Linked DNA regions of Homo sapiens. The protein of the gene in region 4 interacts with the protein of the main gene of each other region in a pairwise test. Each region holds a gene or a part of one and is shown on either strand. Other genes may lie near its edges.

Region 1 (6,702 bases), on a different chromosome or scaffold from region 4:
AGTTTCAGATGTTTCGCTGTGCACTAAGAATGTAAACCCCTTTAAAGTTTGCCCAGAGACTGTAATAAAAATCTAAATTTCTTTTTAATTCTTTTGGCTATTGGATATGTTTGAGTGTGATATCAAGCTGTGATGGGCCACAAAACAGGTCAGCTTCATGAAAGTTATATTTGGGGGATACTGTCTGGGATTTGGCGCCTAAGGTACAGCAGTCAGCTATATCTTGTTTTAAATCATTGCTCTAGACCTGAGTCTAGCCAGCATCATCGGATTTATAGTGCAAAAAATACACCAGCTATAGAAAATAGAAACTAGAGATACACGAGACACCAGACAGAGGAAAATGGCAGAGCCTCTTCCAAATCCCAATTTTAGTGAGAATATGAGGTTTGAAACTAGGTGTACCTGATGGAAACCTATATGTAGATAGCATGAGGGTCTCTCCCTATCACAGATTGATAAGAGTGGGATGAAGAGAATAGCTAAGGGGATTCCCAGAGGATAATAGAAAAGCAGGAAGCAGAAGCTGTGCGGGGGTTATATTCTCTTATTATGTGGCAGTTCCTCTGAATATTCTAGTAGGATGGCTGGGGTATACATCTGGCCACCTTTTGCTTGGAAATGGACCCATGCAACTAACTATAGGGCATTGGGATCCAGAGGGCCCAGGCCTGTAACCCATCTAGCTGACTGAGGCTCTGCCTCTGTTCTCCTTATTCTCCTTATTTTCCTGAGACTAGACTTTTCTACCTCATCTCATTTTCACACAGAGTTCCTGAAATGATCTGGTTTTCTATCAGATGCACCAATGTCTCCTTCCTATATTTTCTTTTTCTTTTCTTTTCTCTTTTCTTTTCTTTTCCTTCCCCTTCCCCTTCCCTTTCCCTTTCTTTCTCTTTCTTTCTTTCCTTCTTTCTTTTCTTTCTTTCTTTCTTTCTTTTCTTTCTTTTTCTTTCTTTCTTTTTCTTTCTTTCTTTTCTCTCTCTCTCTCTCTCTCTTTCTTTCTTTCGACTAAGTCTTGCTCTGTCACCCAGGCTGGAGTGCAGTGGCACAATCTTGGCTCACTGCAACCTCTGCCTCCTGGGTTTGAGCGACTGTCCTGCCTCAGCCTCTGGAGTAGCTGGGATTACAGGTGCCCACCACCATGCCCAGCTAATTTTTGTGTTTTTAGTACAGACAGGGCTTCACCATGTTGACCAGGCTGATCTCAAACTACTGATCTTAAGTGATCCACCCACCTCAGCCTCCCACAATGCTGGGATTACAGGCATGAGCCACCGCACCCAGCCACCTTCCTATATTTTCAAATCCTGCTACTGGTCCACTCCCCCAGTTCCCACCTACCCTTGGCTCTCAAATGTTTGACCTGGAACTTGACTGGACCAGCCAAACTGCTTGATCTCTGCACATGTTTCCCATGGCCTTTTGTGCTTCTCCAATAATTTCCCCTCCCTCTGGGCTCAGATCCCTTGTACTCTCAGTGGACTTCATGGCCAGCACCTCTGGACAGCATGATGTAATCTTATGCTGAAAGCCTTCACATCCTCAAGAATAGTGGCAAAAGGCCTTGTATGATGACATACCATAGCTCCTCCTGTATGGGGGCTATGCTTAGTGTAAGCTTATGGGATTTCAACAATGAGAGGTCCCCCACTGGGACAGAGTCACTCTTTGTAGGTAGAAGGTAGGGATATACCTGAAGGGTGAATTGGCAAGATGAAATCTTCCATGTGAAGTGCTTGTCAAGAGATGTAAAGTAACAGACCTAGACAGAAAGTCTGAAAGCCATGCCAGTCTTTTCTGGCTATAGCAGAGCTCTCCTCGGAAGGATGAAAGCAGGGTTGGACCTATAAGCCCTGAGAACATGCTTGCTGTAGTATAATCAGAAACTTATGCTGTGTAAGCTCAGCTGTTTTCATGTGTTCTGTTTCTATTTCTAGTTTTCCTATAGTTTTTAATAAAGTCTCTTTGTAAACACCAGCCCACTTCAGCTGTGCTTATGGAAACCAAGGAAAAGCATTTCTGTCCTCTCTTGAGCCAGAGTTTCAGGAGTAATCTAAGGTGTTATTACCACGTGTGGGGTACAGAGCAGAGGTAGGAGTCCTAAGCAAGGTGAGAGTGCTGGAAATCTGTAGAATGAAGGAAGAAATGAGCAAGCAAATAGAATTGAATCATTAGTTTCAGAAAATACAATACTGTGTTTTTAAAATTTGTTCATATATTTGTTTTGGGAAATCAAATTTTTAATGGCTGCATAATACTTTATGTATCAGCAATTTTGCCTTAGTTTATTTAAACATTCTGCTGCTGGTCATTTAGGATAGTCCCCACTTGTTTCTATTTTAAAAGCAGTAAGATTGGTATAGGTCAAGCAGTCCTCTAGTGTCACAAAACTTTCCCTGGGCCAGCCTCACTCTTCATCACCAAGCACATAACCAGGGAAACCCAAAGGTAACACATTTGCTGTCACTGAACCGCCAGTCTACAAAACACTCACCTTTACGTAGTTCTTCTCTATCTTGAAGTGATATAGTTTGTTTCTCTTTCCCAGATTTATTCTTATGAACTTCATTTTTGGCTTCCGATCACTTGGCTTCCCTAATTTCCTAGGGTCATTATTAATTATTGTGCTCTGCCCAGGTGCTGATTCCTTCTCAATCTGCAATCATCTACGTATATTAAAGACAATTTTTCTTCTTCCTCCACCCTTCCTGCTCCACCCCTTAAATAGGGAAAGGGCTTGTCACAAAGGTTGGGGATACTCAGTGTATGTCTGAACTTGGGCACTGAAAGAGAGAGCGGGAATTACTCTAACACACAGTCCCCCCATCCATACCCTCCACACAACGGTCAACAGTTTACCTTTTCACCTGTGAGATGATGCAGACTGTTATTCAGAATTAGAAATAGTATTATAGATTATCCAGTCCAATTCCCTAACAGATGAGGAAAATGATGTGGCCAAGGTCGCTGAATGAATAAGTGGCAGAAACGAAACTGAATTCAGGTCTCCTAAAACCCACTACGTTTGGCTTGGGGAGTTCTGGATGAGAGCGTGGGACTTGGTGGTTTTTGTTATTCATTCAATAACTATATTAAGCATCTACATACTAGGTGCCAGGCACTATTTTAGGAGCTGGGGATTCCGTGATGGAGGGTGCAGGGGAGACAAAAATCTCTCCCCTTATGGAGCTTTCATTCTCAAAACTTAAGCACTTGGCCTCCCCATCTGGGACAAACTCCCAGAGACCTGCGTAGGAGCGGTAGGGTCTCATAAAGGAGGGAGTCCCATCCTTCCCCCGCTCCGGTGATTTCTATAGCTAGAGGGCTGATTTACTGCAGAAACCTCCGTAGCGCCCTCCTCCTGCCTCTGCACCGTCAGGCCCGGTGGGTCCGGCTCCAGAGCGCCACCGTGCCCCAGCTCAACTCTGGGATCATTAGCAACAGCCTCTCTACCCTCTCCGCTTTCCTGCGCATCGCTGGAGGACAGGGAGGCAGGACTCGACTTTAGCGCCATCCTCTGAGAAAGGAATGCGGGCTGGAAAAATCTTTCCAGGGCAGTCTCGCTGGGTCTCATACCCCGGCTAGGGGAGGGACGATCTCTCCCGGACTTGGAGGTTTCTGCAGCAGACGGCTCTCTCATACTTCCCTATTAAACATTGCGACCACACGCTCTTTCCAGCCTTGGCCGAAGCCACTGTAGCGTCCCCTCTCCTCCCCCCACCCCGCTAGTCCAGACTCCAGAGCCCCACTGCAGCTTCCAGCCATCCTCCCTTTTTCTTCGCCACTTCCTGGTTACCATGGAGACACACGTCATTTACGTGCCGTGCGTCGCCTTGGAAACAGAGGAGCATCCGCGACACCCCCGGGAGACCCACCCCAGCTGCTGCTGCCACACTCGCGGGCGCTGCCCGGTAATGGCCTGGGGGAGTCCCGAGTCCGACGCGCCGCTGGCCTCAGCCTGGACGCGGACCCCTCCGCGAGCGCGTCTGTGACCCACGGAACCGGCAGGCGCTCTCTGCTTGTGGCGCCCAGAGGGCGGCGCTGACACGGGCGCGATCCGGGAGGCGAGGCAGGGCAGGGCACTTTCGTCCCGGGGCGATCCCAAGAGACGCCGGCTCTGGGACCCTCGCCGGGTCCTCGTCCCGCAGCCTCTTCTCGGCCTCCCGCGATCCTGCCTGCGCCCTCTGCCCAGGACTCGTCTCTCACGTCGGCTCCCCGCCAGTCTCGGGAGCCTCCGCTTCCCTCGGCTCCCGCTAGCCCCTCCCGGGACCTCTCCCCCTCCACCCCCTCCCCCACCCCGGAGGCCGGGCTGGACGCGACCCAGAGCCTCCGCCACCCGCTTCTGCCACTCAATGGAGGACGGTCTGCTGGAGATCATGACCAAGGACGGCGGCGACATGCCGGCGCCCCTGGAGGTGTCCACCGTGCCGGCAGTGGGGGACGTGATCTCCGGGGAGTACAACGGCGGCATGAAGGAACTGATGGAGCACCTGAAAGCCCAGCTGCAAGCCCTGTTTGAGGACGTGAGGGCCATGAGGGGGGCCCTGGACGAGCAGGCCTCGCACATCCAGGTGCTCTCGGACGACGTGTGCGCCAACCAGCGAGCCATCGTCTCCATGTGCCAGATTATGACCACTGCGCCCCGCCAGGGCGGCTTGGGCGTGGTCGGCGGCAAGGGGAGCTTCCAGAGCGACCCCCAAGAGCCGGAGACTCCTTCGCCTGGGATCGGGGACAGCGGCTTGCTGGGTCGCGATCCCGAGGACGAGGAGGAAGAGGAAGAAGAGAAGGAGATGCCCAGCCCCGCCACACCCTCCAGTCACTGTGAGCGCCCCGAAAGCCCCTGTGCTGGTCTCCTTGGGGGGGACGGGCCACTTGTGGAGCCCCTCGACATGCCCGACATTACCCTGCTGCAACTGGAGGGCGAGGCCTCCCTGTGAGGGGACTCCGTGGGGCACTACCTTCCCGGGCTGTCTTTGGGTTTCCGAGTGCATGACGCGAGGGGGACTGAACGGCGCGGTGCGGCATGCTTCACTTGGACAGCTGCTCTTGTGGGTCAGGCAGAGAGAGACTCCCTCGAGGAAGGATTTGTAGGGTGAAGGACTTTGGGAGCATCGAGAATTCTTTCTGCCCAACTAAGCGAATTATAGCGAACTGCGGAAAGGTGAGGCTCCGGGAGAGGAAGCGCCCATCTCTGGACTCCCATCCATCCCTATCCTGTCCTTTCCCCCTTCCCAGACAACAGGAGAACCCGTGAATTGTGTAAATAAAATTCTGCTTTTTCTATTCTGAAAAAGGACTTACCTAGGACCATGGCAAATAATCTCTAACAATTTACCTGGAAATTAAGGAATTGGGGGTATTTTGTTCTGGCAACAGGAAATTTACCCTTCTGCTGAAATCCAAGATATTCAGTGCTCTGCAGAAGCCTCTCCCCCTCACAGATCTCTGCGGCTGCTGATTGGTAAAGGAAGCTTGAGGAGGGAACTGCAGCCCTAGGAATCTGGGTGAATGGGGTTCCAAGGGCCCCTGGGCTGGGAGGAGCTGGCTATGAATGTGCATGAAGACATAATAGCTCAACCTCTAGGATTTTGCATGCAGAGCGGATCCTGCCTTGTCACTGACTTCATCTGGGATTGCTTTTCCACTCCCTGGGGCTTAGAGAACAAAGAGCCCGGTTCACAGGCAGAGACTCGGGGGTGCTCAGCAGCAGCCCAGATTTAGGGGACATTTGAGGGACTCTTGGGGCCGCAGCCAAAAACTGTCTCTCCTGGCTACACCTGCTTAACTTCAGTTCCTTTTTCTGTCAATATGTCCTTGCCCACTGCCTCTCGGTGTTGCCTTCATAATGTCTTGTGTGTGTTATGTGTGTCTACTTGTGTAGTAGTGTGTGAGCCCTCAGGGGCAGGGCTTGTGGCTCTGGTGTTAGGTTCAGGGGCTTCAGACCCTTCTACGAGCTCCAAGCTATCAATGGCGCTTTTCTCTCCCTCTTCCCCCAACCAGGGCATGGAGCATGTGGCTGTCCTGAGGTTCTTTTACTGATGTGCCGCCCTTCCACCTCCTCAAGTGGTGACTTTGTGTGCCCTCCCCCTCCTTTGTGTATTCCTTCTCAATGCTTTCCTTGGTGTTAACCTTAATAAAAAGGCGTCATCTCCCCTCCTTGCTGACTGGTACTAAGGGGATATCAGGGTGGGTCTTAGTGGGAACTGCAGGGGCCATGCCTTCCCTCCTCTCTCCTTGCCTCCAGTTCAAGGAGTTGACTGTCCCTGCCCTGGTTGGGACAGGCATTGCCAACTCTCCCTGCTTTCCCTTCTGTCCTGGACCTTGACCTCAAGCTGCCCTGGGGAAGGAGGTGGTAAGTGTTGAGACTCCCATGCTAACATGAGTTTTTAGTAGCCAGAACTCCAAATGTGCAGGAGACTTCTTTTTCAGTGAAGCATCCCAGTGAAGCCCTGGGAAATGATTTCCAAATCTGGGTCCTGGAATGGCAGATACTGCACCTGTTCCATGGAGGGAGTGGGGTGGGGGTATTGTTCTGGAGGGATTGCCTGGGATCTCTGGAAATAGTGACACATCACAAAGGGAAACCACAATAACTGCCTCAGGCCTCTAGTGGAGAACCCGGGTAAGGTGTTCCCCAGAGGGCTTGACTGACAGCTCTAGTCTACTCCCTTGGGCAATGGAGATTTCTTGAGGCTGCCC
Region 2 (7,096 bases), on a different chromosome or scaffold from region 4:
CCCTCCAGGCATGTCTTCTGACCTGAGAGGGGCCAGTGTCCTGTACAGTAGAAGCCGGGGTTTCCGTGCTGCACCCGCAGCACCAGGGCACGCACCGTGGGGAGGCAGCCTTGGGCTGTGCCCGCGACAGGGCCCCTGCATGCTGAGCAACAGCCTCACATGAGCAGGCAGCACGGCCTCCTCTCCACGGGAGCCTCCACCGCCGGGGCTGTGAGCTTGAGCAGGGGTGGGTCCCCGCCTGCCCTGAAGCCACAGTCAGGCTGGGGGGTCACCGTGTCACCAGGCAGGCCAGGCTCAGCTGTCTCAGGGCTCTCGGGCCCCTCAGGTGGGGGTCGCTGCAGCTTGGCAGCAGCTCGCTGGCGCTTCAGGTCAGCCAGGGTGTGGTGGGCCTTGTCGTGGACCAGGGTGTGGGGGGTGGTGCTGTCCAGGGGGCTCAGCTGGTAGGAGACACTCCGGTCTAGTCGCTTGGAGTATAGATGCCGCACTGGGGAGCCCCCTACTCGGCCATTGTGCGGCCTGACCACTTCGGGGTTGTCCTCCTGCGGGCAGTGAAGGTCCCAGAGCCATCAGGAGGCTCCTCCCCCCTCCCTGGCCTTGGGTTCAGGCTGTATGGTCATGAAGGGACAGACAGGAGAGATGGGGCAAAAGCTGGCCCCTGCAGGGCACCATTCCTGACACAGGCAGGAGGGGGTCCAAGCGGAGAGAGAACCAGGGCAGAGCCAGGCCCACCCCTGCGCTGGGCGGAGCAGGGACGGGGCGCTCACCTCCGGGGGCGGCGGCCTGAGCTCTGCGCCTGTCTGGCGGTCATCGTTGTCCTCGGGCGGCTCCGGGCTGGTGGGCGGCGGCTGTTGCCACACGATGGCCTCCTGGGCGTGCTGCTTGCGGTACAGGTCGGTGCGCTGGGTTAGGCTCACCCGCCTCACCACCTTCCTGGGGAGGAGAGAGGAGAGGGAGTGAGGGGAAGGGGAGTGCCCGGAGGACCCCGCCCACCCCCTCGGACTCTGCCCCCAGTTCGGCTGGCACTCCGCCCGGGGCTGACGTCCGCGGGGCCAAGCCCGGGGCGGGGCCTGCTGGGGGCGGCGCTCACCCGCGGCTGCCGGCGCTGGAGGTGCGGCGGCGCAGCAAGGAGCGCTGGCGGCTCTGGGCGCGCAGGAGGGCGTCGTGCTTGTGCTTCAGCTCCAGCAGCTTGGCCCGCACCTCCTCGTCCCCGCACACATCTGAGAAGTGGGCGCAGGCGTCAGGGGCGCCCTCCCCGCCTGTCCTCTCCCCCAGGTGGAGGTGGGCCCCGCAAGCTCACCAAGGGGCGTCTCGTCCATCAGGGACTTTGCGTTCAGGTCGGCCCCGTGCGCCACGAGCAGCTCCACCAGGGGCACCTGTGGACGGCAGGCCGGAGCTGCAGACTGCTGCGCTGGAAGCCCCCTCCCACCTGCTCCCGCCCGCACTCACCTGGCCCCAGTAGGCCGCGGCGTGCAGCGGCTCCCAGCCGTCTTGGTCCTTAGCGCTCAGGCTGGCTCGGTGTTCCAGCAGCAGGGCAGCCGCCTCGCTGAACCCGTTGGCGGCTGCGACGTGCAGCTGCAGGCAAGCGCCCGGCCTGAATTCGGCCCCATCCCCCACCTCCAAGTAGCGAGGCCCCCAGCCCCGTGTGCCCCTCACCCCCCAGCCCTCACCAGCGTGGCCCCGTGGTCCAGGGGGGCATGGAGGTCTGCCCCGGCCTGCAGCCGGCTCCGGATGTCGTCCAGCATGCGCAGTTCTGGCACGGCCCGGGCGGCCTCGATGCTGTCCTGGGTGATGCCTGCGAGGCGGCAGGCTCAGAGGGAGCGCGACCGGCAGCCCTCCCACAGCCGCACCGCCGCACCTACCACGGTCGGCCATGGCAGTCTCCAGGCAGTCCAGCGTCTGCTCATCATCACACAGGTCATAGGGCATGTTCCCGTCGGTGTTGACCGCCAGGAGATTGGCGCCACTGCAGGGAAGACGGACGGGGTGCTGGGCACAAGGCCCTTCCCCGCTTGCCAGGCTCCTCACTTGGAGAAGTCCCCGCCAGGGCCCCTCAGCCCAGGGCTGCCCCTCAGGAGGCACCCTGTCCACCTGCTGCTGGGAGAGGCAGCCTTGGGGCCCATCGGCTGTCCTAGATCCTGTCATTAAGCCAGACAGGCCTCCTGCAGTCTCTATCCATCCAGGGATCCAGGTTCCTGGCACCTCCAGGGGCAGCGGTGCCCCCATAAACATGCATTGGATGGGCCTGCCTGCTGGGGAGCAGGGAGCACAGGGTGGCGGGGGTGCAGGACCAGGCAGCCACGCTGAGGGGCTGCTGAGCTGTGGGGAGCATGGCCCCAGGGAAGAAGGGCGGTGAAGGGGAGCCCAGAACACAGAAGGGGGTGTCTGTGTGCAGTGGAGGAGCAGGCCTACCTGTGGACACCCCACATCCCCGCCTGCCCCGCAGCGCCTGTGTGTGACGCGACCGCCATGCACACCCCACCCGGCCTCACAGGGGCACTCGAGAATGACCGCAGCCCTGACCTCTCTCCCACTACAGATGCCTGGAGCAAAGGGGAAGGGAGGAGGCTCATGGACCCTCCCTGCTCAGAGTTCCCCCCGCTCTACGTCCCTCTGTGTTAAAGGTAAAGGCCCTACCTGTGCTCAGGTACCCTCTCCTCCCAAGCCACCTGGCCTCCTCACTCTGCTTCCCTCCTTAGCAGTTCTGCCCTCCTCACTGACCAAGACATTTCTCTGTGCACACTCTGGGGGGGGGCCCGAGGCCTGCCCTCTCGGCAGGAGGACGAATGCTGGGGAGGCAGGGACCGCGCTGCCCTGGGCACATGCCCATTCCCCTGGAGCCCCAGGCCCTGCTCTCCATGCCAGGACACAGGCAGGGTCAGCAAAGGTGAAGGCGGGAACACAGGAGGCCGAGAGCCACAGATACTGCCCAAGAGGAGCCTCCTGAGCGGCCATCTGAGAGGAAGCCTCTCCCTGCCAAGGACGCCCAACAGGCCCTACCTGGCGATGAGCAGCTCCACCAGGTGCAGGTGGCCGCAGGTGGCCGCAGCATGCAGAGGCGTCCAGCACTCACTGTCACAGGCATTGATGTTGGCCCCAGCCTCCAGGAGCTGCTGCACCATCTCTCGGAAATCATCAATGCAGCACTGCAAACCGTGCCACGTGAGCGACCAGAGCACGGGGGCCAGCCCCCACCCTGCCCACACCCAGTGCAGGCTGACCTGGTGCAGGGCCGTCAGGCCGTCCTCGTTGGCCAAGTCAGGGCTGACCCCACTCCCAAGGAACTGGCGGACTGCAAAAAGGTGGCGAGGTGAGGACAGGGTCCTGCCCCTGGTCAGGTCCTGTCAACTGTGCTTCGGCCCAGGACCCAGGGAAGGACAAGGAAGACAGTGGTGCCGATGGCAGGAGGCACACCAGAGCCCAGGGGTGGGGGCAGAAGCACCAGGCATCTGTCTGGCCCAGGCCGGTCACACTCCCAGAAGCCCTCTGCCTCCACCCACCTGCAGGCCCTTCATGGTGGTGCTCCAGCCCTCCGACCCCCAGAACAGGCCGTGCTCCTGTGTGAGAGCAGCACTCCAACAATCCCACACCTCCCTCCAGCCCAGGAAGAGCTCCCTGCCTGGAGGCTACCACAGCTCCTTCGGCTCTTCCCTGACAACCTGCCAGCCCTGTGTTCATGAGCTCTCCTGGGTCCTCTGGGACCTGACCTGAGGCTCCCCACCACCAGAGCACATCCCTGCTCTCACTCCCCTCCCCATCAAAGATCCCAACTCGGGCCCAGCTCTCGCCCAGGTCACCAGGGTTCTCCCTGACGGTGCCTGGGGTGCAGCAGGAGGGCTCCCACCTTCCCACAGCTCCCTGTGGACCATGGCACCCTCCGCCTCTTCCCTCTGCCTCCAGGCCTCCCGGGAGGGCTCCTGTCCACATGGAAAGATGCAGGCCAGACACTGCCGGCTCCTCTTTACTCTCTGCTCCGGAGGGAGGCAGGAAGGAGTCTCAAGGGCCACCACAGTGCCTCTTCCCCCAAGACTCCAGAGCACCAGAAGTGGAACCCACACAGCTGGGGCTGCAAGCGTGGGGCACAGGTGAGGAGAAGAGAGTCACAAGCAGAGCCTAGGGCAGGCACTGAGAGGGGGCCACCTGCATAGCTCTGTGCCTGCCCAGGGCCTGGCTCTCTCACCCACAGAGGTGGCTGGTCCCACCCTATTTCACGGAGGTGGAGACCAGGGCTCTCCTGAGCAGCCTAACAAGAAGCAGCAATGACTACCGGCCACCCCTGCTCCCGTGGGGCCCCGCACTAGGTTTTTCTGCAGGCTCCTGGGGGTCCACTCATGGCCTCAGCTCACCTCACAGCAGGAGCCCTCTGCATGCAGCCCCCGCCTGAAGGACGGCTGTCCCGCACAGGCTCACCTCAGGGCTGCCCACTGCTTGGGGCTTGCCTGATGGGGGCACCCTGGGCCACCCAGCCTGAAGAGACCAGGCAAGATCTGGGGGCTGGAGCCCAGGAGCTGTGGACAGGCCCAGCCCCCAGCCTTGGCATGAGACGGCACCCAGGTAGCAGGGAGTGGGCCGTCTGCTGGGAGCTGCTCTGGGCTCAGCCACACTCACCTTCTTCCAGGTCATTTCGGGCAGCGGCCTCCAGAAGGACAACACTGGGAGGGAAGAGGACCTGCTTCAGGAGCCCTTGGCTGGCTGCCTCCTTCCGGGGACGCTCCCCAGGACCCTTCTTGCCCTGGGCCTCCTTCTCAGCCTGGGCCCACATCTTCACCTGCTGGGCGCGCCGCTTCTGGGCATGCTTCAGCCGCTCCTGTGTGCTCATCCTGCCCACCATGGGCATCTCTGCCAGCAGCTCCAGGTGCTCGGCCATGGCGGCGGCTGCTTGCCCACAGGGCTGCTCGGGGCACCAGAGTGGGGAGCTTGGGGGCCAGGCTGGGCCTGAGGGGTGGGGCAGCTAGCTGGACTGGCACCCTCGGGGGCATCCCCTTCCCAGAGCTTCGTGCCCTTGGCTGGGTCAGGAGGCCCCACACAATAACCAGGCCCAGGCAGCCCTGGGGGGCATGGGCCGGGGCAGGGAGGGCAGTGTGGGAGGGCACCCCAAACCTGCTCCCCAGGCCAGCCTCTAGCTGTCGACAAGCAGCGCCTCGCCTCCCTCTCGGGGTCAGGGTGCACAACCTATGGGAGGCAGCCCCGAGACCTGGCCGGCCTCAGTGCAGGGTCTGAAACTAATTACCCAGATAACAAGGTTCCAGCTTCCGGGCACCCTGCTGAGGGGGAAGGGAGGGCAGGGCCAACCAGCAGTGAGAGCCCCTGTGAGCCCCTGAGAGTCCTCTTTTCACCTTCTAGGCTCAGGAGCCTGGGTGGGGCCTGGGAGCAGCCATGACCCAGCCCCCAACCCCTCCCAGCTGTGTGCCGAGGTCAGTGCATCAGTACTAACGAGGAGGTGCAGCCGCTGAGGCTGGGGGAGGGCAGGTAGTCAGAGTCCTGGAGTCCTGGCCCCAGGGCCCAGGGGTGAGGCTCTCTAGGCAGCCAGGGCACCAAGGGCACAGGCGGGCCGGCCGCAGTGTCTTCAGGAGCACCTCCTCTTCCAGCAGCTGCTCACACCTGAGAAGTGGGGAACAAGGAAGCATATCAAGGCCGGCTTGAGGCAGGGTGGCCCGGGGGAGCCCCTGCCCTGGGCCTCAGGTGAGACCAGGCTTCCAGCTGTCTCAGGTCCTGCCCTGTGTGAGGCCCACCCTTTGTCCACAGAGAGCACTGCAGGTCAACAGTCCTGGGGGTACGGGGAGCTACTCTGCCCCCATTCTGCCCCAGGTTCAGAGAGGGGCGGGGGAAAGGCATGTCAGGCTCCTCCCACCCACCCTTTCCAGAAAGGGCCGCCCACCCCAGCGAGGCGTTCCCTGCTAGGCTGCTCCTCCAGGGCCAGGCGCTGCCCTAAGGCTGGGCAGGGTGAGGTCTCGTGGAACAGCCTTGAGGGCTTTGCAGGCTACTGCCTTCCAAGGGCAGGCCCCGCCTCCTGGGCCTCCACCTCTCCTGCCTTCCAAGGGTAGGCCCCGCCTCCTCCTGTCCTGACTGATACCCCAGCCTCTCACTGCCCAGTCTCTAGACCTCTTCCTTGATGGGCTCCCACAATGCCTCTGCCATCCTAGGCTGCAATAAAAGCCCCCACCTGGTGCCTGGCTTGAGGCCTATGGGGACAGACAGGCAGGCAGACAGCTTCGGCTGGGGCACAACCCTGCCTATGTACCTGCTATGGCCCTAGTCCTGCCCGACACACTAAGTGTGGTTGCTGGGCTGGCCACAGGCCTCACCTCAGAAGGCACTCTGTGCTTGGCCAGGCGCGGTGGCTCAGGCCTGTAATCCCAGCACTTTGGGAGGCCAAGGCGGGTGGATCACGAGGTCAGGAGATCGAGACCATCCTAGCTAACAGGGTGAAACCCCATCTCTGCTAAAAATACAAAAAAAATAGCTGGGCGTGGTGGCACGTGCCTGTAGTCCCAGCTACTCGGGAGGCTGAGGCAGGAGAATGGCGTGAACCAGGGAGGCAGAGCTTGCAATGAGCCAAGATCACGCCACTGCACTCCAGCCTGGGTGACAGAGCGAGACTCCGAGAAAGAAAGAAAGGAAGAAAGAAAAGAAAGAAGGCACTCCGTGCTCTGCAGAAGATGCCTGCCAGGAGTCCTATTCTCCACCCAGCCAGGCCTCATGGCCATCTACACACTGACCCAACTCTTCACTGCTGGACTTCTACCCAGGTGTTTCATAGAATGCCCCCTTCTTTCAGAAAGGGAACTGTCCTGGGCCAGGTCAAATTAAGCCAGTCAGGTCCTTCCTGCTCAGGGGCCCCCAATTTATCTGGGAGCCCCACTTTACAGGTTCAGCCTACTCTAGACATAGTCCCCCCCTGTAGGCCTAGCCTCAGAGGCTTCCTGAGGACACGGCCAATAAGGCCAGTGGCCCTGACCTGGCTTTCTGCCTGCCAAGTAAAGAGCTTTTCCAGGCAGTAACTCTCCCTCCGAGCAGCCTGCTCCTAAGCCTGGCCAGCTCTGTAGACCGCAGAGGCCAGGGCAAGCACACACTGGCCAGACACCCTGCCCAGGCTCCC
Region 3 (7,807 bases), on a different chromosome or scaffold from region 4:
CTGCCTCAGGATTGGAACTAGTCTAGCCTAGGTTTGAACCCCAGCTTGGGTCACTTTTGTGAGAGGCAGCAAAGTAGTGTCTCACAGTATAGATGCTGGAGCCAGACTGCCTGAGATTGAAGCCTGAGGGTGATATTTAGTAGCTGTGTGGTGTTGTGCAAGTATTGAGCCTCTCTGTGCCTGTTTCATATTAAAAAAAAAAAAAAGGGATAAAAATAGCACCTCCCTCATAGGAGTTATGATGAGGATAAAAAAAATTAAGACAAGTCTAGAGCTTAGAAGAGGACCTGGCACACAGGAAGCACTATATTTTATAAGCATTTGTCATTATTATTTCTTCCTTAAACTGTTAAGGGCTGGAGTTTCCATGTCTGCAAAATAGGCATTAATAACAGCGTCTAACATAGCAAGGCTTCAGCCGGGGCCTGGCAAATTTAAGGGTTCGAGAGGTAATAGTGGTTACCATTTTATTGCTATTATTTAAGGACCACCAGGACATGGATTTTTCAGAAGAGGAACTTGAGGCTCAGGTCGCCTGCCTTCTCAAGCACCACACCCTTTTGAGATAACACAGCACTTTTATATCTGCCATCTTACAGCCTCATGAAGGTATCGATCTCATTCTCATTTTGCAGATAGGCAGGACATCCAAGGAACCTATAGACAGTCACTCCCCCATAGCCAGTCTCTGTGGGGGCTTCTCAACTCCAGGAGGAAAGGGAGTGAGGCTGGATTCCAAGGCAAGTTTATAGGCATAAAGACACCCCTCCGACTTCCTCCCCTCTATTGGCAGGAGAAGGGGTGCATGCATGCTCAGGAATCACGGTAGAGACCACATCCTGTGCTTTGTCGCCACCCAGGAAGTATATCGGAGAGGCTGGGTGGGGTGAGGCTGGTGATTCCACTGGGCCTCCCCAGAAAATCCTAGAATGGTAGAGCAAAAGCCATTCAGACCCAACCCATTTTATTAATACCAGTGGGGTGTCCTGGGTATATGTCCTATCCCTGTAGAGAGGAAGGGGCTAAGCCCCAGAGGGGTAGTAGGTGTGCCCAGGGCGCCTAGCTGATTAGTGGCAGGGCAGGGGCTGGGTCCGAGGCTGGATCCTGGTGGCCCAGGGCTCCCTCTGGATGCTGCAGTGCGGATGTGCCAGTCACTGGCAGCTATCCAGCACTGCAGTCTCCCCCACTTCATCCCAGGAGTCAGTCTCAAGAGGCCAGGCCTTGGGCTTCCCTGGCCCCTCCTCTGCACACTCACATCTACATTTTGCCCCAGCAACAGCTGTGGCCCTTATCCAGAAACTGCAAGTATTTTCTGTATCTCAGCAGATGCTGCCTTAGGAACAAAGGGTAGATAAGGCAAAGAAAGATGGATGAGTGATTGTCACAGCTGCAGAGGGGGATGAAAGCCTCTGCCTCCTGCCCTCCCCAGTCCCATCCAACTCCCAGAATCCTAAATCTTAGAACAGTTGAATCCTAGAATGTCTGCACTGGCAGTGGCAGCCAGTTCAGCAGACTTTGCTCCAGATGGGGCACAAAGCCTTAGAGAAAGGGCTTGCTCAAGAAGTCCCAGCACATCCGGACTGTAACCGGGCTTTCCTCTGACCCCAGGCCAGTGCCCTCGGCGTGGCTCAGGGCCTGCCTGCTAGGAGGTCAGGGTCCACAGGGGCTGAAACTGGGGCGGTCATTCACTTCACCATGAAGGGCTACGCAGGTCAGGATATGCCATCTGGGTCAGTGGAAGCAATCCCAAGCATGTTTTGGGCAAGGGGGAAGGAATAATGGAGGGAAAAGGGCGGACTCTTGGGGGGAAACCAGAGTCCTTTCACAAACCCGGGAGCCATATGTCCAAATTTGGAATTGTCAGAGAAGACCCACTAGAATCTAGGGAAAGGAAGGAGGAGGCAGGAAGCCGTGGCCAGATTAGTTGTCCCAAAGGACCTCCTGCCCTTTCCCCTTGTAGGGCCTACAAGGGTTGTGCCAGGCTTCCCAAATCTATAATCAAGACTCCCAAACCTGCAATCATTCCATACAGCTGACAAATAAATCAGTTTTCAAAGCCATTGTTTCCTTTGAAAGAGACTGGGTTTCTCAACTATGGACTTGGAGAAGGAAATCCAGGCTCAGAGAGGGAAAGCCACCGCCCAAAGTCACACTGCAACAGGGGCTGGGATTCCGATTCAGGGTATTTTGCTCCCATGCTGGTATATGGGGAATTATTTGAAGCCCCCAAACTTTGGGAAGGCCTAGACCGCTTAGGGGATGCAGAAAGAAGGGTAGTGCCCCTGCCTCACCATAGGAGGCCTCGGAGCCCCGTTGGGAGACTGCATTCATAGACAAGCAGTGGCCCAAAGGGGATGGGGTCCAATGAGGCCCTGAGGTATGTACGACCGGACGTTCAGCTCTCTGCACGCAGGCAGCCCTCCCCCGACACCACACACAAGCCATTTTATAAGCAGCTGGAGGGTCCAACGCTCTTGCTCTCAGTCTTGGGCCTCAGCCACACCCTTCTCTGCGGGTCCTTTGACTGGCGTCCAGCTGACCCCAACCCCGGACCTTCAAAGTCTCTTGAGCCCCCCCAAATTAAGGCCGGCAGGACCAGCCCCTGGCTCAGCTCCGGCGCCCAGGACCCTCAACCAGACCCTCTGCAGCAACGGGACTCCCTCCCCTCCCCCTAGCCAGGGCGCCCTCCGCCCGCGCCTCTCCGCCCCGACCCCAGATTTGCTCCGCTGCGCTCCCCAGACACACCCAGTCTGCGACACTCTCGGGTTACCGCGCCCTCCCGTCCCTGCTCCTGGCGGGGGGTACCCATCAGCCGATGACTGGGCGCTTATTTCTTGTGTCCCTGCAGCCCCCGGGAAGGGGTTCCCAGAGCGACTCCCCTCTCCAGCCTCAGCCCACTCACCGCGCAGCGGAGGCCTCGGGTCGCAGACGGACGCACGGGCGCAGGGACTCGAGGACGCAGCGCTCGCTGGATCGGAGCCCGTTAGCCCAGCAGCAACCGCAGCGCGGGGCGGACCGGGAGGACAGCCGTGGGCTCCGAGCCGGACACGTGGCGCGCAGAGGCCAATCCGGCGCGCCCGCCTCCCTCCTCCACCCCACCCCTCTAGCTCCTTAGCTCTTGGAATCTTAGAATGTCACTAGCCCGAGGGGCTTGCCGGGAGAACCTCCTCAGTTTCCAGCCCCCGGATCTGAGACTGAGAAGGATTAGGGGCTTTGGCCAAGGTCACGCGGCCCTTCAGGGCTAGAAGTCAGGGCTCCTGACTCCGGGTTCTGGACACTTTCCCGCAAATTCTTATAAGTCGCCAAAGCTTTGTTGAGAAACAGAAAATTGAGGTTTGCCAGGGGCACTTTATCTGCCTGATCAGATTCCATGCCTCAACAGCCTCATTAGGTCGGTGACATTATTTACCCACTTTCAGGAGGAGAGCCCAGTCCAGTTCCTGGACCAAGGTCACACAAATAGTGGGTTGCGGAGGCAAGCTTCTTCGTGCTCTGGGAAGCAGGGAAGGCAGGCAGGGAGACCAGCAGTTGTAATCCAGCGCTAGAACAGGAAAAATTGATAAACTGAGAATACAGAGGAAACTGAGAATTATTGTCCCCAGGGGATTGGTAAGGAGAAGATGAGGAAGTTAGAAGAATTGGACAGATACCTGCGGAAAGTGTTCCAGGCAGAGGAAACTGCTGGAGCAAATGCTCCTAGCAGGAGGCCACCTGGCGCCTCCGAGGATCAGCAGGGGGGCCAGTGTGGCTGGAATGGAGTGAGTGGGAGGGAGAGGAGAGATAAGAGGGACCCAATCAGGTGGGACCTCCGGGGCCCTTGAAGGCACGCTGTCTTTTACTCTGAGTCAACTGGGGATCCATTGCAGGATATTGAGCAAAGAAAGGGTATTATTTTTGGGTAGATGAAATCCACACAACATAAAATTAACCATTTTAAAGTCAACAATTCAGTGGCATTTTGTACAGACACAATGTTGTGTATCCACCACCTCTATCTAGTTCCAAAATATTCTCTTCACGGAAAAATAAAACAGTATACCCACTGAGCAGTCACTCCTAACTTTCCCTTACCCCTCGTCTCTGGCAACCACCAATTTGCTTTCTGCTTCTGCGGATGTGCCTATTCTGGATATTTCATATACATGGAATCACATGAGATGCAACCCTTCTTGTCTGACTTCTTTCATGTGGCATTTTGTTTGTTTGTTTTTGTTGTTGTTTTTTCACTCTTGTCGCCCAGGCTGGAGTGCAGTGGCGTGATCTCTGCTCACCACAACTTCTGCCTCCTGGGTTCAAGCAATTCTCCTGCCTCAGCCTCCCGAGTAGTTGGGATTACAGGCATGCGCCACCACACCCAGCTAATTCTGTATTTTTAGTAGAGACGGGGTTTTTCCATGTTGGTCAGGTTGGTCTTGAACTCCCGACCTCAGGTGATCCACCTGCCTCGGCCTCCCAAAGTGCTGGGATTACAGGCGTGAGCCACCGTGCCTGGCCTCATGTGGCATGTTTTTGAAGTTCATCCACACTGTAGCATGTATCAGCACTCCATTCCTTTTTTTTTTTAGTTTCAGTTGGAGTTTTGCTCTTGTTGCCAAGGCTGGAGTGCAATGGCGTGATCTCGGCTCACTGCAACCTCCACCTCTCAGATTCAAGGAATTCTCCTGCCTCAGCCTTCCGAGCAGCTGGGATTACAGGCATGCACCACCACGTGTGGCTAATTTATTTTTGTATTTAGTAGAGATGGGGTTTTACCATGTTAGTTAGGCTGGTCTCGAACTCCTGACCTCAGGTGATCCACCCGCCTTTGCCTCCCAAAGTGCTGGGATTACAGGCATGCGCCACCGTGTCCGGTCCAGCACTCCATTCCTTTTAATGGCTGAATAATTTTCCGTTGTATAAGTACACTATAATTTGTTTATCCATCCATCTGTTGATGGATAGTGCATTGTTTCCCCCTTTTGCTGATTGTGAATAGTGCTGCTAATGAACATTTGCATACAAATACTTATTTGAGTACCTGTTTTCAATTGTCGTTGTGTATTTACCTAGGAATGAAACTGCTGGGTCATATAGTAATTCTACATTTAAGTTTTTGAGGAACTGCCAAACATTTTTTCAGAGTGGCTGCAACATTTTATATTCCCATCAGCCATGTCATGTATGAGGCTTTTAATTTCTCCATGTCCTTGCCAACACTTGTATTTTATTTTTTAAAAATTTGTACCCGGCCAGGCACAGTGGCTCATGCCTGTAATGCCAGTACTTTGGGAGGGCCGAGGTGGGTGAATTGCTTGAGCCCACGAGTTTGAGACCAGCCTGGACAACATGACGAAACCGCATCTCTACAAAAAATTAACCAGGGGTAGTGGCACATGCCTGCAATCCCAGCTACTGGAGAGGCTGAGGTGGGATGATCCCTTGAAGCTGGAAGGTAGAGGCTGCAGTGAGCCGTGATTGCACCACTGCACTCCAGCCTGGGCGACAGAGTGAGAACTTGTCTCAAAAAAACAAAAGTACAAAAAACTTGTGCTCTAGTCATTATGAAATGGCATCTATAATTGTGTTTTTGATTTGCATTTCCCTTCTGACTAATGATGTGGAGTATCTTTTTTGTGTGCTCATTGGCCACTATTTGTACATCTTCTTTGGAAAAATATCTAATCATGCTTTTTGCTCATTTTTAAATTGGATTTTTTGTCTTTTTTGTTGTTAAGTTATATGAGTTCTTTTTATATTCTGGATAAGACTTTTGTGTTTGTTTGAGACAGAGGCTCGTTCTGTTGCCCAGGCTGGAGTGCAGTGGTGCCATGTCGGCTCACTGCAACCTTCACCTCGTGGGTTCAAGCAATTCTTTCCGCCTCAGCCTCCCAAATAGCTGGGATTACAGGCACCTGCTACCATGCCCAGTTAATTTTTGTATTTTTTTAGTAGAGACGGGGATTCATCATGTTGGCCAGGTTGGTCTTGAACTCCTGACCTCAGGTGATCCACCTGCCTTGGCCTCCCAAAGTGCTGGGATTACAGGTGTGAGCCACCGCACCTGGCCAAGACATATTTTTTAAAGGGTCACTGAAGTCTCCTGTGTTGGAAATACTGAATACTGTTGGGGGAAGAGTAGAAGAAGGGGATCTGCTAGGAGATTTTGCAGTAATCCAGGCAAGAGACAGGCTGGTATAAATGCAGGTGGGGGAAGTGGTTGGAGATGGGATGTATTTGAAGGTTGAACATGATTTCCGAAGGATCAGGTGGGAGATGAGAAAGAGTCAAGAATGGCTTCAGGGATCCTGGCCTGAGCCACTGGAAGGATGGAGTTACCATCAACTGAAATGAGCAAGACTGCAGGGAAAGCAATTTTGGGAATTAGAAGTGGGGAAAAGATCAGGAGTTCAGTTTTTGACCAGTTTGTTGAACATTTCTATTAGACACCCAACAGGAGATGTCAAGTACGCAGTTGGCTAGTCAAGTCTGGAGTTCAAGAGATGAGATCCTTAAGGGAGAAGAGAACTAAATATGGAGTCCTAGTTCGGCAAAAGGAGTCAGGCTGGCAGGACCAAGGGAAAGCAAAAAGAGAAAGCAGATAAGCTATAAGTCTGCCTTTCTTCATGGCCCAGGATGCATAGCCCTCCTGTGCGAATAACTCACAATCTTATCTGCGCCCAGCTATTGCCAGACCCTCACCTGATAGAAAAATGCACGCAAGCTCCCTGCACCCTTGATGTTATCAGTACTGCACAAAGCCCTCTTCAGCACACAGCACAAGCACCATCCTATAAAATCCTTAGCCAGATTTTGTTTTCTTGCAGTTAGCTTCTGTTTTGCTAACTTGCCCGTTGCACCCTTGCAACGTATTTTCTTTTCTTTTCTGTTTTTCTTTTGAGATGAAGTCTCACTCTGTCGCCCAGACTGTAGTGCAGTGGCACTATCTCGACTCACCACAACCTCCGCCTCCCGGGTTCAAGCGATTCTTCTGCCTTAGGCTCCTGAGTAGCTGGGATTACAGGTGCGTGCCACCACACCTGGCTAATATTTGTATTTTTAGTAGAGATGGGTTTTCACCATGTTGATCAGGCTGGTCTCAAACTCCTGACCTCGTGATCCACCTCGGCTTCCCAAAGTGCTGGGATTATAGGCATGAGCCACCACGTCTGGCAGCAATGTATTTTCATACTTTCTCTAATAAATCTGCCTTTCTTTACCTACAACTGCCTTGGTAAATTCTTCTTACTGCCTGTACCGCCAGCCCCAAATAGTTGCTGATCACCCACGATGCTAAGGACCGAGTCTGAGACACTCTTATGTTACCATTTGGGGAGAGGCCGGACCCGGTGGCTCATGCCTGTAATTCCAGCACTTTGGGAGGCTGAGGTGGGTGGATCACTTGAGGCCAGGAGTTCAAGACCAGCCTGACCAACATAGTTAAACCCCATCTCTACTAAAAATACAAAAAGTTAGCTGGACGTGGTGGTGCATGCTGTAATCCCAGCTACTTGGGAGGCTGAGGCAGGAGAATCACTCCCAGGAGGTGGAGATTGCAGTGAGATGGCACCATTGCACTCCAGCCTGAGAGACAGAGTGAGACTCTCAAAAAATAAAATAAAAGAGTTGGGGAGAAGAAAAGAATTCAGCAAAGGTGACTGGGAAGGAGATTGTAGTAAGATGGGAGGAAACTACCCCAGGAGAATGTGGCAGCAAAGTGAAAAATAAGGGAGTGATCAGGTGTGTCAAATGCTGCTTTTAGGTAAAGTAGGACAAGGTCTACAAATCTATCATTGGGTTTAGCAATGTGAAAGCCAACTTATCTCTTGCT
Region 4 (7,096 bases):
ATCTCATGTCTCTGCCTCAGCCTCTTTAATGAGGTCCATTATAATTAAGAGGACTGAGTGATAGCATGCATGGAAACCACTAAAATGTGGTACCTGTAGTTTTGCTTTTATGATAGGAGCAAAGCTCTTTGCTTCTCTAAATTGTTTTGGTGTTAGAAAAATTCTGTTACATGGTTAGAATCCCCAGGCTGTAACATCCAAGCATGAAGCAGAACCTCTCCTCTGAGCCTCAGGTTCCTCAATGCTAGAGGATTTTTAGGCCAACGAAGATTAAAGTTAATTAAAGGAGGAACCTCAGGTTCCTCCTCTATAAAAGAAGCATAAATGCCACCAATTTATCAATCCAAAGTGTGGGTAGGATGAATTTAGACAACAGGTCAGTGAGTGCTCAGCATGGCCGTGGATGGTGCTCTACGTTAGTTCCCTTTTAATCATCTGGAAAGGAAGAGAAATGCTCAAACACAGAAGGAGAAAGAAGCTTTTGTGCATGTGCTCAGCCAACATGTGCGCCTTCCTCCTAGTTTCCTGTTGTCTGCAGTGTCTCAAGGGTGACTGGCCAGATGACGTGGACAGAAGTTGCTACTCATGGACAGAGAAAAATACCCAAAGTGCCATTCCCACAGGCAAGCTCTCTTTCCTCCTCTTCAAGTAGAAAGTAAACTACACGGTCAGGAATCTTTTTGTAATACTCAGCTGCACTCAGTGAGAGAAATAGAGACTTACAGGTTTTAAGTGTTTTTTATGTGATAGAAAACTTATCAGGAAATCAAGGAAGTCACCACTGACATGATTGACTCTGAAGTGACACGCAGGAACATGCCAGATTGCCACTGCAAGGGGGTGTGGTATGTTGAATGCTGGCTGATGCTGTGAACTGGAGGATTTGTTTTCAGTTGGGCATGGAAATTCAAATGAGCCCAGCACAGCCTACACAAAGGATACCCTGAGACAACACAGCCCTGGGATGACAGCAATGCACTCGGCTTTAGAGAGCGAGCAGCCGCAGCATGGCTCCACAAAACTGGCAGAACCAGAAACCATCTGGGTCAGGTACAGGTGACCTGAAGGCAGCAGCCAATGCTGATCAGATTGGATGAGCCAGAATAGTGGGACCCACAGGAAAAGATGCCCATGGCCAGGCCTGCTACCCTCTCCACGCAGCCCCAGGCTCTGGGATGTGCTGAGTGGACAGGACCTGCCCAGTGGCCTAGTGTCATGCATTCTTCATTTCCCCAGCACAGGGCCCCTTCCTGGCAAGTGTGTCCCCCTCCCCCAGAACCATTGCCTCTGGCTGTGACATGCCCCTTCACTTGGCCACTCACCGTAATCACCTTGTTTTCTAGATCTGCTCCTCCTGCCAAGCTGAACCCAAGACCAGCACCTTCCTCCTTGTGTAAGATGGTGACATGGATGCCGTCTAATTGCTGCAGAGGAAATACATACATTCAAAAACATTTTACTGCAAGAGGATGAACAATTTAACATCGGACTGACATCAGACTGATTTGTTATCTCAAACCCCAGCTTGGCCAGCCTCCAAGTTACATCACCTCCTCAAACCTCAGTTTCCTCATCTGTAAAGAATGGACCTTCAGGAGTCATGGGAAGCTTAGAAGAAAAAAAAAATGTATGTAAAGCAGCAAGCATAATTATTTTCCTCTCTCATTCACCCTGTCCACAGCCGGGCAGGGGGAGTGCCATGAAGTCAGCCAGAAATCAGCATATTGGACAGTGTGAGATGAAGTCAGGTTGTAGGACTTCAGGTAAAACAAAACAAAAAAAAAAAACAACAAAAAACAAAACAGGGGTCAGTGCTGTTCTGCAGGAATTGGTTGCTCCTTCTTCCCTTCTACTTCTCCATGGGTCACAGCAGCAGCACTAAGGAAGCCCAGCTAACATCCTGCCCCAATGCACAGTGTGCAAGTGTGACACACACACACACACACACACACACACATTACTACGGTACTTCCTAGCCTAGACGGGGACTCCCATGGAGCCAGGACACAGTCAGAGACTCCTATTCCAGTCTAGAGCAGGGGTCTCAAACTCAGATGCCTATAGGAGTCAGGCAGGTCCCTAAAATGAGCCAAATGGGCAGATGTGTGATAGGAACTGCAGAGCGCCAACGAGTACATCTGCTCAAAGGGTCAGCTCTACGTAGGCATACAGAACTAGCGCTACCAGATCACTTCCCTAAAGTCCAGGTTTCAATTCAGGTTTTATCATGTATAGAATTCAATATTTTTTTCATCACCATGCAGACCAAATAAAGTACACCTACAGGTTCTTGGGGCACCTGTTTGTACCTTGGCACTAAGGAGTAAACTTATGTCAAAGAATTCACTTGCTCAGCGTCACTAGAGCACCTGACTTGCAGCTGTCCCTATGATCCTAAGACTTGGAGCCCCTAAGACCCAAAGGCATGGAAGGATGAATGTACCTCACTGCACCCTCACCTCCAAGCCCCAACACTAGCCCAACTCTCTCAACTTTTACCCAAGTATCAGGTTACTTGCCTTGTAGAAGGCTCTTCTCATGTTAGAAAGCAAATACTCTCCCCAGAGCAGCTCAGGCAGGATGGCTCTTTGTGTTTTACACGCTCTGCCTCTGTTATTTCATTTGCACTGAGTAAGATCCTGGGGGATGATGGTCCCAGGTGACAAGTGAAAGCCACAGCGAAAGAATCTCAGCACAGCAGCACCTTGGGCTCATCAGACTCACCTACACTCTTGATGTGGAAATTGCAGCTATGAGGCCTCCTTGTATGGAAAACGAGAACCTCCTTATCCTCTCATCCTAGCCTGGATCATTCTAGTGCCAAAAGCCTACGGAGGCCTGGGGCAGCACCTAGAGGGTGCAGGACCCATGAGCCTGAGCTCATTTGACTGCTGGCCCCAGCTCAGCCTGGCCACTTCCTCCCCACACCCCTTTGGGTCATGCTCAGAAAACATATGGGAAGTGAGACTTTCAGAATGACTTGACTGAAGCGTGGGGGACTTGTGAGCCCTGGGATCAGCCACCTCTCCATGCACAGTGGAAATAATGAAAGCTCCAGGTGAGAGCTCTTGTAACCCACATTGTTTACAATGGACAGCATCCCACAACAGACACATGCCAGGACAGCAGCACATGGAATGTGGAAACAGCACTGAACTTGAACTTGGAGACAGAAAACCCAGGTTCTGTAACCTTGATTGAGCCTTACCTTTCTCATTTATAAAATGACAAAAGAAGATGCAAGAAGTCAATCTACTGAAAGTGGTTCACAAGCTAAAAGGCTCTCTTCAAATGGAAGGTCTTACTGTGGTCAAGTGCTACAGTGTCCCACCATCACAGGACGCAACCTGGGTCTGATGTGAGCAGGCTACTCAAGCTACTTCCCCTCTGGCCCAACTAAGGTGGCCACACAGCCATAATAAGCCATTGGTTACTGCAGATGCTTACAAAGGAAACCTACCTTTAATGTTGCTTCATCCAGAACCTTCACCTCCTCGATGAGTTTTTTTAATTCTTCTGAGCTCAGCAGGGAGATAACGGACTGACCAGACTGAAGGGAACTGTGGTCCCCATCATCGTCTTCCTTGGCTTCCGTGAGACCCTCTGTATATTCTCTCAGCTCTGAAAGGCTTTCATAAGGAGAAACAACACACAGTATGAACAACAATATTAAAAAGAGGTAACAGTGATTGTATAATTACTATGTCCCAGGTGTGGTGCCAAGCACTTATGTGCATATTATTTGATGCAACAAATCTATGAGTAGATACTAGCATACCTTCACTCTACAGATATTTCCCAGCAGTGTAAGAATAATAAATAAAACTAATAAATGCAGAGCTACTTTGATCAGAGGGAAGACCAAGCCCCAGCCCTACAGCAGGGACCCTATGGCACGTCTGACATCCTCTTGGTTCTGCATAGAAGGTCTCATCCATCTCCTAATTTCAACTGACAAGGAATCTGAGGGTGAGCATGGAAAGAACCTGCTCATAGTCAGAATCAGTGCCTAAGCTGAGACTAGGACCCAGACATCCTAACTCCCTGACGAGGGAGTTGAACCCACGTGCAGAGTACAAGTGGATTCCATTTGGAGAGTAAGAATTCCTGATGGATAATTTCCTGGCCTCATTCTGGTCTTTCTGAGTAACCGCAGGACATTTCAGATGTGCATCAACCTTCCAAATCTCCACAGGCGTATGTCAGCCCTCATGAGCAATTCACCAGGGAGCCAGTCCCACCTCCTACCTCCCAGCCCTCCTGAAGCCAGATGTTGTGAAAACTCCTCCTTAATGTGAAAGGCAGAGGTGTAATACCTACAGACAGACACACACACACTCAGACATCTGCACACACATGGAAAGAAAGAGGCAGAACAATTCTTTAATCAATATATCTGGGAATTTTTTAAATTATATATAGGATTATTTTTAAAAATAAAGATGAGAAAGAAAAAGATGAGAAAGGTAAAGAGAAACACCGGGTGTAGAAACTCACTTGAGCGAGAACCCTGTGTCCAAGGCAGATGTTTCAGCAGAACCATTTGCAGCTGAGTCTTCGTTGGATGATGATGTTGGAGATGCCCCTTCCTTGGGGATGCAGGGAGTCTGGGCACAGGAGATAGAAGATGGAAGGCACAGCAAGGATTTCATGACAGCCGATGACACTTGGCTGCTGATAGAATAGAGTTTGCTGGTCTTTTCGTCAAGTAGCTTCGTCTCACAGGACTGGGACCTGGTCAGGGGGAAGCTCCGTGCTCGCTGGCTAGGCATCTTGAGCACTGGGCCTTGAGATTCCTCAGCCTGTGTTGACAGCAGCCTTAGGAGCGGGTCCGGGCCAGGGGGGAGAGTTTTCTGATTGGGCTGCCGCCCTGGGGGAGGGGACTCAGACACACCTGGGTCTCTGGCCTCGGAGGCTGCAGGGGACCCCGAGGACAGTACTTGCTCAGGCTGCTGGGGCACAAGAGTGGGTGCAGCCCCTCGCCCCAAGAGTCCAGAAAACCGTCCTTCCTCATGCTTCCCAAGAGGTTTTGCTGCCTCCCCAGAGGAGGGCTGGAGGCTCAGTCTCTGGGCTCCTTTGTCAGGCAGTTGAGAGGAGCCAAAGGTTTCAAAGGAGCTGATTCTCTGCCTGATGGAGGAGGAGGAGGAGGAGGCCCGGATGTGTGATCCTAGGTGCTCCCTGGAAGCAGGTGCTGGCTGGGTGGACAAGGCAGGATCAGGGAGCCCTCTTGGGTCTGAAGCACGATTCCTCAAACCTTTCAAGCTTTGGCGAAACCAGGCTGGCTTGGGAGCCACAGGAGGACCTTTCTTCACAGTGCTGCTGTCTGCTGACTTGTAAACTTTGGGAGTGCCATTGGCGGTGTCCAGCTTTGGTGGGGTCCCATCTGGGTGGCCCTGTGTCCCTTCTTCTTCATTCAGGCTGGCATTGGGCTGTAGAGGCATGTGGCCATGGTTCTCACTCATGATGGGGCTAAATAAGTTTTTGATGCAGTCAGAAATCCTAACCCAAGGGTCTTCGGCTGTGGTATCAAAGCTATAGTCCATCCGAGCCTGCCTCTTAAGCAGTGGGTGTTTTATCGGGGATGTTTGGGTCACTACAGTGCAGAAACAAGGCCAAAGCTGTGCATTACATCATACAGTGACTTTTCTTCCTAAATTCTAGTTTCCAAGCTGAACAGCAAGAAGGATTCAAGAGGAGGAGATTAGCAGAAGTGGGGGACACCCAGGTGGGTGAACTCCAGGTGCTATTACCTGACTGAGCTGCCAACAGGCAGGAGTGAAGGACCAGAAGTAGGAGTTAATCTCACAGTATCCTAGTGTTTTAGGCCTGGAAGGGTGCTCAGAGAATATCTGGGCCGACCTCTGGCATATTACATTTCAAGAAGGGTAAGGGGCCATCTGATGGCAGTGCTCAGGCAAGACCCTGTGTCTCCTGACTCTTGAAGTTCATGTCCTTTCTACTGCACTAAGGAGCCTCCAAGATACCATGTTAAATGTGTAAAAGCCAAAGCAGTTCTCCTGCCGTTTAAACTTTTAAGACAAAGGTCATGAGTTGGCAGCTGTTTGTGCTTTGACCTACCCGTGTCATTAAAAACAAGGTGCCTGTGCACAGCTTCTGATGGGGCCACTTCGGCTTCCCACAGCTCTTCACGCTCCCTCTCACCCAGCCAGCATTTCCCATGTATGTACCTGCCTGGCCCTGAAGCCGTGTGTTTGCTGCTCTGCCTATACACAGGTCATTGATCAGCTTGCTCTCGGCAAAGGAGTGTTTTCCCTCCCTCAAAAGCTGATGAAAAGGTTCCAGGTAGAAAGGAATCTGTGAAGTAGGATTCTCCACCTTGGCTACATACTGGAATCTGGAGGGCCCTGAAAAATACTGACGCCCACCCCTAGGTACTGACTGAAGATACCTGGGATGCAGCCTGGGTGTTGGGAATGTGATGAGCAGGGGATTGCAATGTGCAACCTGCTCTGTGCCAGCCAGGACCTCAGGCATGCCCTGGAGCACATAGGAGTCTTTCTCAGAAGCCAGCATTGAACCAGCATCATATCTGCATGGGTAAGGGAGAGGGTGTCCTGGCTCTCTTTCCCAGGGGCAGAGGGAGGCTGGCCTGTGTGCCTTGGGGGATGCTTGCTACTGGAACGCAACCCAGTTGAAGGAACTCTGATCCCTCCTGTCCCTTGTCTCAATGCCAGGTTTCAAAAGAAGTGAATCATGGAGCATTACACCTTGATGATATCAAAGAGAAATTCTGCACAATCTAAGAGACTGGCCTTGGGCAAGTGAGCCCAGGCCTCCAGCCTGTTTCTGCATTTTTGAATGGCTTGGCTGTAAGGTGCTGTTGTGAGAATCAGGAGGCAGAGGTTCCACAGGCAAGCCCTTTGCAGATTGGAGTGACAACCTCCTGTCAGTTAAACACTGAGGCGTTTGCTTTTGCTAGAATGTTCCTCAATTAGGGTGACTAAGGGAGAGGAGCCTCCACCCACAGGGCCTCTGCTCTGGGTGAGATGTGCTAGATCTTTCCAAAATGTCCCTTAGCCCTCCAAAAGTCTTTCATGAGCTTTTCTGTAGTGTTACTCAAACAGTCATATGTTTT

What was found.
Region 1: the proteins of IL16 (region 4) and CCDC184 interact in binary tests that used the Homo sapiens proteins (3 or more experiments, as listed by UniProt).
Region 2: the proteins of IL16 (region 4) and PPP1R16A interact in binary tests that used the Homo sapiens proteins (3 or more experiments, as listed by UniProt).
Region 3: the proteins of IL16 (region 4) and ANXA6 interact in binary tests that used the Homo sapiens proteins (3 or more experiments, as listed by UniProt).

What each region holds. Positions count from the first base shown.
Region 1 is NC_000012.12:48,179,768-48,186,469, forward strand, and holds CCDC184 (coiled-coil domain-containing protein 184), read left to right. Parts: upstream 1-3,876; 5' UTR 3,877-4,355; coding exon 4,356-4,940; 3' UTR 4,941-6,159; downstream 6,160-6,702.
Region 2 is NC_000008.11:144,494,963-144,502,058, reverse strand, and holds part of PPP1R16A (protein phosphatase 1 regulatory subunit 16A), read right to left. Parts: exon of another isoform or gene 5,599-7,096; 5' UTR 4,865-5,598; coding exon 4,606-4,864; intron 4,083-4,605; exon of another isoform or gene 4,064-4,082; coding exon of another isoform or gene 3,842-4,063; exon of another isoform or gene 3,290-3,841; coding exon 3,219-3,289; exon of another isoform or gene 3,144-3,218; coding exon 2,998-3,143; exon of another isoform or gene 2,537-2,997; intron 1,964-2,536; coding exon 1,860-1,963; intron 1,793-1,859; coding exon 1,668-1,792; intron 1,573-1,667; coding exon 1,447-1,572; intron 1,374-1,446; coding exon 1,298-1,373; intron 1,218-1,297; coding exon 1,088-1,217; intron 931-1,087; coding exon 765-930; intron 540-764; coding exon 156-539; 3' UTR 1-155. UniProt on the Homo sapiens protein: Inhibits protein phosphatase 1 activity toward phosphorylase, myosin light chain and myosin substrates.
Region 3 is NC_000005.10:151,154,778-151,162,584, forward strand, and holds the start of ANXA6 (annexin A6), read right to left. Parts: upstream 3,003-7,807; 5' UTR 2,903-3,002; intron 1-2,902. UniProt on the Homo sapiens protein: May associate with CD21. May regulate the release of Ca(2+) from intracellular stores.
Region 4 is NC_000015.10:81,297,877-81,304,972, reverse strand, and holds part of IL16 (pro-interleukin-16), read right to left. Parts: intron 5,670-7,096; coding exon of another isoform or gene 5,626-5,669; exon of another isoform or gene 5,594-5,625; coding exon 4,498-5,593; intron 3,630-4,497; coding exon 3,461-3,629; intron 1,425-3,460; coding exon 1,323-1,424; intron 1-1,322. UniProt on the Homo sapiens protein: Interleukin-16 stimulates a migratory response in CD4+ lymphocytes, monocytes, and eosinophils. Primes CD4+ T-cells for IL-2 and IL-15 responsiveness. Also induces T-lymphocyte expression of interleukin 2 receptor. Ligand for CD4.